2 linked regions of the Homo sapiens genome follow. The protein of the gene in region 1 interacts with the protein of each later gene in a pairwise test. Each region holds a gene or a part of one and is shown in the gene's direction. Other genes may lie near its edges.

Region 1 (7,143 bases):
TTTGAGCTGATGGTGCAGTCTGCTGTTCTGCAACTACATAAAAAGTAACCTGGGCCCTGCAGAGGGGACACAAGCATCGGGGCCAGGTACACAGTGACAGGGGTATTTGAGCTGGGTCTGTAAGGATGACTGAGATGGCTGGGAGGAAGAGCTGCACGCCTCAGCAGAAAGCACACGTGGTGAGAACAAGAAGGGAAAGCCACAGCATCCCGGTGCAGTCCAGTGTGGTCTGTGGACTGGGCATGTTGGAATAGGCAGGAAGGGCTGATGTGCGCTTTGAGGGAGGACCGGGCAGCTGGAGAGGGAGGCGTCAGGAAGCAGGAGGGCAGAAGGTGAGGAGTGAAGGGCAGCAGTGGAAAGGACAGGGTTACGCCAAGCAGTGGTCATGGATATGGGCAGTAAGGAACATGCACCAAGGGCGCCTGGAAAACGAACCTTAGAGAACGCAAGTCCTGCGGAGGACTCCTGGGTTCCTGGCTGGGACACCGCCTGGGCAGGGAAGGCAGAGAAGATGGAGAACCTGGTCTCAGGTGGCATCAGAACCCAGCATCCGCATCACCAGGATTGCAGGAGCAGCAGCGTCTCAGGCCCTGGGTGTGTCAGAGCCCCCAGGCCACGTGGAAGTATGAGACGTGCTGGGCTGCAGGGGAAACAATGGAAATGAGGTTGGAGGCCCGAGAAGACCCACTGCAGGAAAAGGGTGGAGTGGGGGAAAAGCAGGCTGGGGGCAGTGGCTGGCCTGCAACAAAAGCATTGTAGAATGCAGGCGTGAGCCACCGCGCCCGGCCAAGGCGGGCAGATCATGAGGTCAGGAGATCGCGACCATCCTGGCTAATGCGGTGAAACCCCGTCTCTTCTAAAAAAAAAAAAAAAAAAAAAACTGTAGAAAGGGGAAAGCAGTCCAAAGAGAAGTATTTCTTCCAAGAGACTCATCAGCACACTGTGTTTCCAGAGATGTCTTTCTGTTAACAGCATTCTTAGACTCAAAAGTAAATGTAGATATACTTTAAAAAACAAAAACACCTTGCTAAGAGATGAATTTTTAGAAACTTGTTGGACAAAGAAAAGTCATTGATAGTCAACTGCTGTGAGAGGCAAGCCAGGAAATGATGATTAATACCCTCAAATTATAATAAAACCCATGCCTCATTAGGGGCTCGCCCAGGAGTACTGACTTGTGGATAGACACCGTCTGGGGAAAACTCTGTCGCCTGTGTCAGGCTGATGCTCTTACATTTTATAGCCCCTTGTAGGATAGTGCATGTTGAGAAGAAGCCGCTTCACATCATCGTGGTGCAGGATCTGTGGTGTGGTGTGCTTCATGTGTGTGTTTTGTGTGTGTAGTGTGTATGTAGTGTAGTGTTAGTTGTGTGTACTATGGTGTGTGTGTGGCATGTATGTAGTTTGTGTGTGGTGTGTGTGCAGTGTGTGTGATGTGTGTAGTGTGCATGTAGTGATGTGGTGTGGTTTGTGTGTGTTTTTATGTGTAGTGTGTAGTATGTGTGTTGCATGTAGTGTGTTGTGTGTCGTGTGTATGTAGTTTGTGTGTGTGGTGTGTTTGCAGTGTGTGTGGGTGTGTACTGTGTTATGTGTGTAATGTGTATGTAGTTTGTGTGCTGCACGTAGTGTGTTGTGTGTACTGTGTATGTAGTTTGTGTATACTGTGTGTAGTATGTGTGCAGTGTGTGTGTAGTTTGTGTATGACGTGTGCAGTGTGTGTAAGATGTGTGTAGTGTGTTGTGTGTGTAGTGTGTATGTAGTTTGTGTGTGTGTGGTGTGCGTTTAGTGCATGTGTGGTATGTGTCCATATGTGTGGCATGCATGTAGTGGGCATGTAGTATGGGGGTGTATGTGTGTGGTGTAGTGTGTGTGATGTGTGTAGTGTGCATGTAGTTGTGTGGTGTGTTTCGTGTGTGTTTTGTGTGTGTAGTGTGTATGTAGTGTAGCATGTGTTTAGTATGGTGTGTGGTGTGTATGTAGTTTGTGTGTGATATGTGTGTAGTATGTGTGATGTGTGTAGTGTGTACTGTGTGTGGTGTGTATGTATTTTGTGTGTGTGGTGTATGTGATGTGTGTAGTACATGGTGTGTGTAGTGTGTTATGTGTGTAGTGTGTTGTATGTGGTGTGTATGTAGTTTGTGTGTTGTGTGTGCAGTGTGTTATGTGTGTTGTGTGTGTAGTGTGTATGTAGTCTGTGGTGTGTGTGATGTGGGTAGTGTCCGTGTAGTACATGGTGTGTGTAGTGTGTGTGGTGTGTGTAGTGTGTTGTATGTGGAGTGTATGTAGTTTTTGTGTGTTGTGTGTGCAGTGTGTGATATGTGTAGTGTGTTGTGTGTGTGGTGTACGTGTAGTTGGTGTGTGTGATGTGTGTAGTGTCCATGTAGTACATGGTGTGTGTAGTGTGTGTAGTGTGTTGTATGTGGTATGTATGTAATTTGTGTTGTGTGTGCAGTGTGTGTTGTTTGTAGTGTGTTGTGTGTGTGGTGTGTATGTAGTTTGTGTGTGTGGTGTGTGTGTGATGTGCATAGTGTGCGTGTAGTGCATGGTGTGTGTGTAGTGCAGCTGTGGCATGTGTTCGTAGTGTGTGTGGCATGCATGTAGTGTCCATGTGGTATGGAGTGTGTGTGTGTGGTGTAGTGTATGTGATGTGTGTGGTGTGTGGTGTACCGTATGTGATGTGTGTAGTGCGCATGTAGTCATGTGGTGTGTTTCATGTGTGTTTTGTGTGTATGTAACGTAGAATTTGGTGTGTGCGGTGTGTTTCATGTGTGTGGTGTGTATGTAGTTTGTGTGTATGTGTATGTGTGTGGGGTAGTGTGTGTGATGTGTGTTGTGTGCATGCAGTGGTGTGTTTCATGTCTGTTTTGTGTGTGTAGCATGTATGTAGTGTAGCATGTGATGTGTGTAGTGTGTTTCGTGTGTGTGGTATGTATGTAGTTTGTGTGTTTGGTGTGTGTGATGTGCATAGTGTGCATGTAGTACATGGTGTGTGTGTAGTGCAGGTGTGGCATGTGTTCATAGTGTGTGTGGCATGCATGTAGTGTGCATGTGGTATGGAGAGAGTGTGTGTGTGTGTGTGTGTGTGTGTGTGTGTGTGTGTGTACCATGAGGGACATGCGCTTTGCTCCCTGGATAAATGGATGGAGTCATGTAGATAATTTTCCATTCACGACCAGCCCCTTTTGGTTAAAATGTGCCTCCTTGGATACTTTTGGGGCTGGCAATATGTATCCTTCTAGTTTACAACCATGATTGAGAGGGAATACTCTCCATGTTAAATATGCATTGGCCGCCTTTCTTTTTGCTTCTGAAATGTATTTATTTACTGCAAGCAGTGTCTCTCCTGTGTCAGATGTCCTCGTGGGCTGGGAACCGGCACTATCTCTTTAGCACGGGCCCTGCAGATGGGAAGTGGCGTTGCCCAGGAAGTGGTCTGGAGAAGCGGGGAGAAGACAGCCTATGGGCCCCAGGCCTCGGGAGCCAGGGAGGGTGTCACTCTTCATGTCTCAGGCAGTGGCTTGTTGCTATCATAGCCCCGGGCTGGAGGTGGGAAGGCCTTATGGTGACCACAAGTCACAGTTCCGTGTGGGCCCTCAACGTGGCCTCACTTCACCTCTGGGGCTCAGCACCAGCGTGTGACTGACTGCTCGAGGCAGCGTCTCGCAGCTCAGGTGGGTGAGGTGGTGGTAGCGTCCTCCTTGGTAATATCACTGTGATGAGGAGCAAGGCTTCTCTAACATTGTCTGGACTCAGGAGGAGCAGTTGGTTTGTTCTCATGTAGATTCTGCCTCCTGTATGCTGCTGGGACCCTGAGGGTCAGCCCAAGAGTCCTGTTTTGCAATAGCCCTTCTGTTTGCTTCTCTTTGCGGTATGTTTATTTTTAGAATTCTTTGTCTTTCCCCACTCCCCCCAAAAAAGAATTATTTAATTTGGTCACTTCCATCAAATGCTCTGATTTTAGCTTAGTTAGAAGGCATGCTGAAAACTGTAATGATGATGTGAACAGAAAGACAACTGTGTGTTGGGAGGGCCAAAGAGGGAAGTGCCTTTGTTCAGAGATGGGAGGGTTTGTCTCCACTTTGAAAGGGTTTGAGTGGTTTTAGCAAACGTTCCCTGCCACGTGGGGTCCTCACCAAAGTTCTCTGTCTCTGTCTTGCCCAGGTGGACACCTGCGCAGGTGTGTGCCCTCCGGCCCCTGAAGCATGGCCAGCAGCGGCATGGCTGACAGCGCCAACCACCTGCCCTTCTTTTTCGGCAACATCACCCGGGAGGAGGCAGAAGATTACCTGGTCCAGGGGGGCATGAGTGATGGGCTTTATTTGCTGCGCCAGAGCCGCAACTACCTGGGTGGCTTCGCCCTGTCCGTGGCCCACGGGAGGAAGGCACACCACTACACCATCGAGCGGGAGCTGAATGGCACCTACGCCATCGCCGGTGGCAGGACCCATGCCAGCCCCGCCGACCTCTGCCACTACCACTCCCAGGAGTCTGATGGCCTGGTCTGCCTCCTCAAGAAGCCCTTCAACCGGCCCCAAGGGGTGCAGCCCAAGACTGGGCCCTTTGAGGATTTGAAGGAAAACCTCATCAGGGAATATGTGAAGCAGACATGGAACCTGCAGGTGGGCCACAGCTGGTCCTGCTCCCTGGGCCCAGGGGGCCCTGTGACCCCACACAGACTTCCTGGCTACATGCAACACATGTGCCTATGTGCCCTGTGTGCCCAAATAACACAACCATCTCCTTAAGCATCAATTTTGGCCAAAAAATGCCTCTCTCTGATAAGAGCCTTTCCTCTTTCACAGCCACAGCTGAGAGGGTGGGTCCCTTTGTGCCAGCAGTGTGGGTTTCTCCACAGCAGGGAACCACTGTTACCCAGTGCAAGGAGGGCCTTTTCAGAGAGGCATTGATAGGTGTTGATTGGTTTCTGTTTATCTGACAAGGTCCTACCATACACACTGATAGGCACTTGATTTTATGGCTTCCTAATATCTCTTGCAGAACTTTCTGTGTCAACACTCATATAGTTGCATCACCCGTTCTTTGGCTATCTGGTATCACCTGCTATGCACCACAATTTATTTAACTAGTACCTATTGATGGACACATTTGCTGTTTATGAATAAACGCTGCTAACAACATTGCTCTAGACCTATCGTATACTACACTTGTATGCAACGTCTGCAGGATAAACTTTGAAAGGGTTGGGATTGCCACAGCAAAGGATATGTGTGTTTATTTTTTTATTTTTTATTTTTTTGAGACAGAGTCTTGCTCTGTCACCCAGGCTGGAGTGCAGTGGCATGATCTCAGCTCAATGCAACCTCTGGCTCCAAGGTTCAAGCGATTCTACTGCCTCAGCCTCCCAAGTAGCTGGGATTACAGGCATGTGCCACCACACCTGGCTAATTTTTGTATTTTTAGTAGAGATGGGGTTTCACCATGCTGGCCAGGCTGGTCTCGAACTCCTGACCTCAAGTGAACCATCCTCCTTGGCCTCCCAAAATACTGGGATTATAAGCGTGAGCCACCGTGCCCGGCCATGTTATTTTTATTTATACACTTGAAAGTACTTAAGTAATGTGTAAAGGTCTTTCTGGTTTTATTTACTGAATGAATGAGTGAATAAGTTTTGATCCTGTTTTACCATGCCAGGACTCGAGATAGATTGGAAATGCCTTCTGCATCATTTTCATTTTTCCTCGGTATGGTTTACTCTGCTTTGCTCTCCATGTGGCAGGGTCAGGCTCTGGAGCAGGCCATCATCAGTCAGAAGCCTCAGCTGGAGAAGCTGATCGCTACCACAGCCCATGAAAAAATGCCTTGGTTCCATGGAAAAATCTCTCGGGAAGAATCTGAGCAAATTGTCCTGATAGGATCAAAGACAAATGGAAAGTTCCTGTGAGTATCGTGCCTTCCCCCTCACCTCCTGCCACCAGGCCTGTGTGGACAATTGGGAATAATTCAGCTTCCTTGTGACTGGCCCCACATGACCCTGGGAAGAGGCCATGCATTGCCATTTGACAACATGCATGCTGGCCTGTTCTAAAGACATTTCTAACCAAAGCTATCACTTGTGACCCAGTGTTTATTTTGCCCAGTCTAACTCTAAAATGAACACTCTTTTTGGGCACCGAGGGATGTAATATTTAAAGAAAATGTGATTCAGCCCCATATTCTCCTTTTAATGGCAAATTATAGGTTGCATAGCACATTCTGTGGTTATCCAACTAAAATTAAAATACTGCAGTTTTTTTACTCAAACTACCCCCTTGATCTCAGACTTTACTTCTATTTTACATGAAACAAGATGCCAACAGGAAAGATGTTAAGGAAAAGTTCCTGGGAGTAGCATCCATGAGTGGTGAGTGCAGGTTTGAAGACTTCAGCCTTAGGCCCACAGTCATTAGAGGGTCTGTCTGAATCCTGGGTTCTGTTTGCTATCCTCAGTGGTTCAGTGTAAATCTAAATTGTAGAAGGTTCTGAGATACAGGCCAACGTGGTCAGTCAGTTGTCCAGAGAAGGTAAAGAACTGTCTTTGGGAGGTGTCAACCTTGTTCCCTCGAGGGGGTCTGGTCAAGGTGGCTCAGTGGGGCAGTTGTCCCTGGGGGAAATGATCCCCTGGTCACCTCTCAGTGTCCCTACAGAGATGCTTACCTTGGAAACATAACCAGAAACAGCGATGCAGCCTCATGGTTTGGCAATTGGTGAATCCCCAGCCGACTTCGTAAACTTTTCCTAGATTTAGAAGCGTTTTCTCTGCCTGTCCATCTATTCAAAGGAATTTCCTCAGACTTCACTGTCATACCTTGTATTTTAAAAATGATCTTAGCTGAGTGCAGTGGCACGCACCTGTAGTCCCAGCTACTCCTGGCAGGAGGATCGCTTCATCCTCACTATGATCTCACTATCGTTTGAGGCTAGTTTGAGACCAGCCTGGGCAACATAGTGAGGCCCTGTCTCAAAAAAAGAAAAAAAGAAAAGAAAAATTGACCACAATACTCTTAAAAAAAAAAAAAAAAAAGGAAGAAGGAAGAGTGGCCCAGGTTGCCACGCGGCAGTGCCTAGAGTGATGGTCTTTAGTGGGATGCAGCCCCAGCCAGCAGCAGAATGCTGTGGGGAGGGAAGACATTGCCCCTCAGTGGA
Region 2 (7,000 bases), on another chromosome or scaffold:
GGTACGCGCCCCAGACCCTGACCAGAGAGCCCAGGGTCTCGGGCCAGCGCCCCTCCCGCTCAGAGCCCAGGCGCAGGACGCGGCACCAGGCACTTTCTCATCCCGAAACACCACTCGGGCATGCCTCCCTTACCCAGGCATCTTCATCTTCATGGGAGGGTGGCAGGCCCTTCGAGAAATATGAGTGCTGGGGGACCGTCCTTAAGAGACCAGCCCAGCCACACGGAGTCAGAGGGGCAAGGAGAGGCCAGGGGCACACAGAGTCATTTGGGGTTTTGTTTTTTGTTTTCTTTTGCTTTGTTTTAGACAGAGTCTCGCTCTGTCGCGCAGGCTGGAGTGCAGTGGCGCGATCTTCTCTCCCTGCAAACTCCACCTCCCGGGTTCAAGTGATTCTCCTGCCTCAGCCTCCTGAGTCAGCTTCCCCCCTCTAGGCCCCATTATCCTCCTATCCCTAAGGCCTCGAATGCTGGTATTTTCCACCTGGTATTTTCAGCTTTGACTTCTGAAATCTGGAAGTCCAACTACTTACTTTCCCATCCCTGTTGCTGCAGTAGCAGCCCCTGCAGGCTGCCCTTCCAGGATGAGGCCAGGGGAGGATGCGGGGGTCTCCTGAATGGGACCCCTGAGTAGCTGGGATTACAGGCGTGAGCCACTGCGCCCAGCCTAGTCATTTGTTTTTTAATGTAAGAGATACTTACGGAGTACTTAGGGCCTACCAACTGCTGGCAGGCCCTGAGAACAGACCCATGAACAAGACAGACAGATGGATCTCAAACTCACAAAGCCTACTTTCCAGCAGCAAAAACAGACAAGTAATAGAAATCCAGGGTGGAGACTGTGATTCAAGAAGAAATACAGGGTACCATTTAGCCTAGCAGGCAGCGGTGCACAAGTTCAGGCAGTGCTGAGGGACCACTGTGTGCCACGCAACTTTCTGCGCACTGGAAAAACAGGAGTGAATGTAAATGACCTGAATATCTCTGCCTTCAAGAGCTTCCATTCTAGAAGGAGGAGACAGACGAGTGAGTAATATGGATAACAAGCAAAGAAGACAGAGTCTGTCTAGTAATGATGAGTACACACTGACAAGAAAACCAAAGAGCTCCACCAGCAGCTCCACCTTCCAAGCAGACCCAGCCTCCACCCTCCTCATGCCTCCTGGAGGCACCTGCCTCTGCTACACTGGCCCAGGCTGCCATCATTTCATGTGAAATATTGTTGAAGAGTGACAGGATTGGGGCTGTTCTACACAGGGTGTCAGGGAAGGCCACTCGGGTAAGCGGACATCTGAATAGAGGCCTGTATGAAATAGGAGAAGAGCCATGCAGACAACTGGAGGAAAAGCATTCTCGGCAGCAGGCACAGCAGGTGCAAAGGCCCTGAGGCAGGAGGAGACTTGGTGTGTCTGAGGAATGATGGGAGCAGAGAGGAAGTTAGCATGGGTGGATCCGGTGACTGAGGGATAGAGAGGTAGGAGATGAGATCAGAGGGGTGAGGGAGGGGGGCCCTGTAGACTCTTGTATGCATTTGAAGTTTTATTCTGAGCGAGACGAGGTGGCACTGGAGACTTACAAGCTGAGGGGTGACATGGCCTGGCAAGTTTCGGGAGGAGCAATATTTCACATGAAATGATGGCAGCCTGGGTCAGGGTAGCAGAGGTGGGTGCCTCCAGGAGGCATGAGGAGGGTGGAAGTCTCCTCAGAAGGTGGAGCTGCTGGGTTTTTGTGGGATTGGATGAGGAGTGTGAAAAGATGGACTTGTCATTGACTGAGTTGAGAAAAGTTCTAGGAGGAACACATCCAGGCAGGAGGCAGGTGATCAGGAGTTCTGTTTTCTACACGTGCAGTTCAGCATGGAGATGTCAAGTAGGCAGCTGGAATTCAGAGTCTGGGGACTGGGACAAAGGGATGGGCTGCAGACAAATATTGAGAGTCACCAGCACTTAGATGGACTCTAAAACCTTTAGGAGGGGAGAAATCTCACTCGGAAGTCAGTGTAGGTGGGAAGGAAATGAAGCCCAGGTCTCCAGCATTTAGAGTTTGCAGAAATGAGGGGGAACTGACAAAGAAAACAGAGCAGAGCGCTCAGAAAGAGGAGAAAAGCCAGAAGAGTGTGATGCTCTGGAAGCCAAGCGAAGAAAGTGAGTGAAGGCGGGTGAGGGCAGAGGGTGGAATTGATACTAGGTTTGACAGAGAGGAGGTCATTGGTGACCTAGACAAGAAGAGTTTCACAGAACTTGATTTGGGTCAGTTAAAACAAGTGGGGACAGTGCCTGTGGTCACTGCCTTTTCTGTGAGGAACAGGCAGAGACCTGAGATTCACAGGGCGTAGGGAAGTCTGGGGGTGAGGAGGAGCCAGCCTGACCTGAGAAGCCTGAAGGCAGAGCTGTAGAAGTCTGAGATCACACAGAGTCTTGTCACTCAAGCTCTCAGGAGTCTGACTTATTCTGGGGCAATGGGCTGCCACCCAAGGATTGCTAGGGGAGTTTCTGTAAGATTGCTCTGCTCGAAGACTGGAGAGTGGATTGGAAGGGCAAGACGATGCAGGGGGAGGAGTCAGGAGGCCTGAACTAGGGTGCTGGCCATGTGCATGGAGAAAAGTACTCAGATGTGAACGATATTTAGACAGTGGAAGGAGCAGGACTTGTGTTTGATTTCATGTCAAGAGGGAGGAGGTGGAGGCATCAAGGATGACTCCTAAGGTGCTGTTTCGGCAGCAGGGTGGAGGTGCTACTTTTTATTCCGGAAGGAGATGCTGAGAGAGGAGGGGGTTAGGGCAGGAAAAAGAATTCTTTGATTTCCACAGTATATCTGCAGTACACCTCCCGATGGAGACATGCACTTGGTGGATTGCAGGAGCACAAGAAAAGCCCTGTGACCTTAGCCTACAGTGGCAGCAGGCATGGGGACAGCATTCATGGACCAAGGGCTAACACGGAGCTAAAAGCAGACCCTCTGTGAGACGGAACCATCCCACATGGGGCTCCTCTCTCCTGAGGTGGTCTCTGCCCTTAAAAATGTTAGCTTATGGCCGGGCGCAGTGGCTCACACCTGTAATCCCAGCACTTTGGGAGGCCAAAGTGGCGGATCACCTGAGATCAGGATTTCGAGACCAGCCTGGCCAACGTGGCAAAACTCCATCTCTACTAAAAAATACAAACATTAGCTGGGTGTGGTGGTGGGCGCCTGTAATCTTAGCTACTTGGGAGGCTGAGGCAGGAGAATGTCTTGAACCCAGGAGGCGGAGGTTGCAGTGAGCCGAGATTGCGCCACTGCACTCCAGCCTGGATGACAGAATGAGACTTGGTCTCAAAAAAAAAAAAATAGCTTATATTTCCATAAAGTAACCGGCAGTACAGAAATAAACACAAGCACAGCTGTCATGGAGATTGGTCCCCATGTCAATAATTTTTCAGTTAAAGACGTGTAAAGCCATGTTGCATTTTCAGAACCACAGGCACAAATGGAATCTGGCCTGGCCCTGTGTTCCAGAAGAAATTAAGTTTAATGCAGCCAAGTGTGGTGGCTTACGCCTGTAATCCTAAGACGCAAGAAGGCTGAGGTGGGAGGATCACTTGAACCCAAGAGTTCAAGACCAAGCCTGGGCAACATAGTGAGACCTCATCTCTACAAGAAATGAAAACACAATTAGCCGGTGTGGTGGCACATGCCTGTAGTCCCAGCTACTTGGGAGGCTGAGGCAAGAGGATAGCTTGAGCCCAGGAGGTCAAGGCTGCAGTGAGCTGAGACTGCACCACCACACTTCAGCCTGGGCAACAGAGTGAGACTCTATCTTAAAAAAGAAAAACTTTAATGCTAGATATGGCCTGTGACCAGAGCTTACCACTGCCTCCATCCAACCCTGGGTCTCCCTGCCGTCACCACCCCCTCTTCCTCATCCAGGGAACCCAGCCCAGGCCAAATTTCTGTGCTCCTCCCCCTTCCCCCATCCTCCACTTAGACTGGATTATTTTGTCCTCCTGATCACCTCCCCCACCCCAACGCTCCACCGAGTGCCTCAGACCTCCTTCTTTCCCAGCAGACTCCTGAGCCTGCAGGACTTTCCCTGAGGACCGAAGAATCAAACTTTGGAAGCAAAAGCCAGGACCCAAACCCCCAGTACAGCCCAATCATCAAACAGGGGCAAGCCCCAGTCCCGATGCAGAAAGAGGGGGCCGGGGAGAAGGAGGTATTGGGCTGCAGGGGCTGAGGGAGTGGGAGGACAGGCCTGCGAGGGGGTGCAGGCAGCGGGGAGGAGGAGGGGCCTAGCGGGGGCAGAGGCTCAGGCTGGGAGTTAGGCTGGGGCTTTAACCCTGCCTCCCTCACCCCACTCCTCCCTGGCCTCACCTTCTCTCCCAGCCCTCCCAGCTGCTCAGGCCCAAGCCTCCCATCCCCGCCAAACCTCAGCTGCCCCCAGAAGTCTACACAATCCCTGTTCCACGACACCGCCCGGCCCCACGCCCCAAGCCCTCCAATCCTATCTACAATGAGCCTGATGAACCCATAGCTTTCTATGCCATGGGCCGGGGCAGCCCTGGGGAAGCCCCCAGCAACATCTATGTGGAAGTGGAAGATGAGGGCCTACCCGCCACCCTTGGGCACCCTGTCCTACGGAAGAGCTGGTCCAGGCCTGTCCCAGGAGGCCAGGTAAATGGGTATGCAGGGAAAGGTAGGTGCAAGAAGGTCTCCCTGCAGGTAGATGGGGGAAGGTGAAGAAGGTGTTCAGAGTGGATGCCTGGGGCAGGGTAAGGGGCAGAGGTGTGAGGTGATGTGGGAAGAACAGAATGATCCAGGCACCAGCCTCCCTTCTCCAGGCCCAGAGGCTGCCCCCTCTTCTCCCCAGAGTCGCTCAGACCTCATCTTTGTCAAGCCCCCATGCCCTCCTATCTCACACAGAAAACAGAGGCCCCCAGGCAGGGTGCCCCTCCACCTCCCACATCGAGGCTTTTTTGATCTGCGTCCATCTTGTCCTGCAGGCCCTCTTCAGACGCACCTGGGGCTGACCCCACCCCGTGCCTCTCTGGCTCTCTCCCTTGGCCTTCACGGCCCTGCTGTCCTGGAGAAAAAGAGCACTTGGGTTCCCTTATGTCATCTCAGTGAGCTCAGGGGAGGGGGACCCTGCTCTCCCAGCCTGCTTCTGTGTACTCCCTGTCTCCCTCTTCCTTCTCCCCAGCCCTAAGTCTTCTTGCCTACCCTTCAAGTCAGTACCTCATGCCATGGGTTAGCCCCAGCAGCCATCCCACCCTCTCCCTCGGCCTCTGCGGCCCTCCCAAAGCCCTTCCCCAGCCTCCCTCCTCAGACCCTTCCCCATCCTCCCTCCTTGCTGGTGCCCCAGGCTCCCTGCTCAGCCTGAGCCTGCTCGCGCTCACCCACACCCCTGCCAACGTCTGCTGTCCTAGAGCTAACGTCACCTGTCCATATCTCCGTCCAAACTTTTTTCCAAGCTTCTGGTCAGTTCCCCCCAGCATCCCTGAGCCCCTCAAACTCAACACGGCCAACAGCGCTCTCACCCTTGCCCTCCAAACAGCTCGGTCCCATGTTCACTGTCCTGATTGCTAACTCTCCAGCTACCCAGCTAGCCAAGCCAGAATCCCAGGGCTCCCTCAGCACAGCTCCCTCTTTACTCCCCCAGTAAGCCACTCATTCCTGCTGGATCTCTTCCTAAGTATATTTTTCCTTCCCCCAGCTCCAGCCCCCATCATTGGGGTCTGGCTTTGTCACCCAGGCTGGAGTGCAGTGGCACAATCATAGCTCACTGCAAACTTGAACTCCTGGGTGCAAGTGATCCTCCCACCTCAGCTGAGATTACAGGCTCGAGCCACCTCACCTGGCTCCCAAGAGCTTCTTAACTGGTTTCCTAACCACCATTCTTGCCACTTCTGATCCACTCTGCACCAAAGAGCCAGAATGGTCTTGCTGAAGCAGCTGCCTGGCCCATGAAGCACTCTAGACTTGGGTTGGGTGGGGGGTCTCACCTCCTTAGCCTTACCACCAGCCACTCCCATTCTCCTAGAATGATTCACATTTCTCTAAACTCACCAAGTGGTTTCAAGCCTCCTGGGGTTTGCACCCGCCAGTATCTCTGCCTATAGCAACTTCCTGCAACCTCATCCTCCCGCTGCCTGGCAACTTTCTAATCATCCTTCAAGACCAGCTTTCCCTTCTCAGAGGCCACCCCCTGTGCCTTACACACACCTGCCATGCCACTGATCACCTGAGACATCCATCTCCTCCCATCTCCTTCTCTCTGTCCCTTCCCTAGTTTAGAGTGTGAGTTCCCTGAAGGGAGGGGCTGGGACTTACCCATCTGTTTCCAAAGCACCCAGCCCAGTGCCTGGCACAGAGCAGGTGCTCAGGAGATGTTTGTTGAATTAATGAATGAGAGGAGTTTAGATACCCTCTCTGGAAGCCAAAGTCTGTTCAGATCAGATGTCTTGAGACTGCAAGTACACCTAGGAGGCAGAGGGTAGAGGGTGTGACCTAGAACTGTCCTTCTCTCTGCAGAATACAGGTGGCTCCCAGCTGCATTCTGAGAACTCTGTGATTGGGCAAGGCCCTCCCCTGCCCCACCAGCCCCCACCCGCCTGGAGACACACCCTCCCCCACAATCTTTCTAGACAGGTGCTTCAGGACAGAGGACAGGCATGGCTTCCCCTTGGGCCTCCTCAGTAGGCGGTAAGTCTGAGCTTGGTGAGGATAACTTGGAGCATCAGGTCCAGAGACCTTCACACACACCTGGCACACTTCTCAAGAAATGTGGATGGAATAAACCATAGGTGTTCAAAGCTGGAAAGGAGCTCAGCCATCATCTATTGCAAGGATGGCAAAGAGGTGTCATCTTGCATGCCAACTCCAATCCATTGGTCGTGGCTGCCTAGAGTGCTGCATTGGAAAGGATGTTAAGGTCATATCTGAACTCAGCAGAAAAAAAGCACATGATTGATTAGTGATGTCTGCCACGGGTAAGAGCGGGAGGATGAGCAGCATTACATTTGTCCTTA

What was found. Proteins that work in one complex are often made in the same cells at the same time.
Region 2: the proteins of SYK (region 1) and SH2D2A interact in binary tests that used the Homo sapiens proteins (3 or more experiments, as listed by UniProt).

Annotation. Positions count from the first base shown.
Region 1 is NC_000009.12:90,839,697-90,846,839, forward strand, and holds part of SYK (tyrosine-protein kinase SYK), read left to right. Parts: intron 1-4,161; 5' UTR 4,162-4,202; coding exon 4,203-4,619; intron 4,620-5,737; coding exon 5,738-5,898; intron 5,899-7,143. UniProt on the Homo sapiens protein: Non-receptor tyrosine kinase which mediates signal transduction downstream of a variety of transmembrane receptors including classical immunoreceptors like the B-cell receptor (BCR).
Region 2 is NC_000001.11:156,806,849-156,813,848, reverse strand, and holds part of SH2D2A (SH2 domain-containing protein 2A), read left to right. Parts: coding exon 1-1; intron 2-4,041; coding exon 4,042-4,188; intron 4,189-4,358; coding exon 4,359-4,646; coding exon of another isoform or gene 4,647-4,712; exon of another isoform or gene 4,713-6,503; coding exon 6,504-6,671; 3' UTR 6,672-6,674; exon of another isoform or gene 6,675-7,000. UniProt on the Homo sapiens protein: Could be a T-cell-specific adapter protein involved in the control of T-cell activation. May play a role in the CD4-p56-LCK-dependent signal transduction pathway. Could also play an important role in normal and pathological angiogenesis.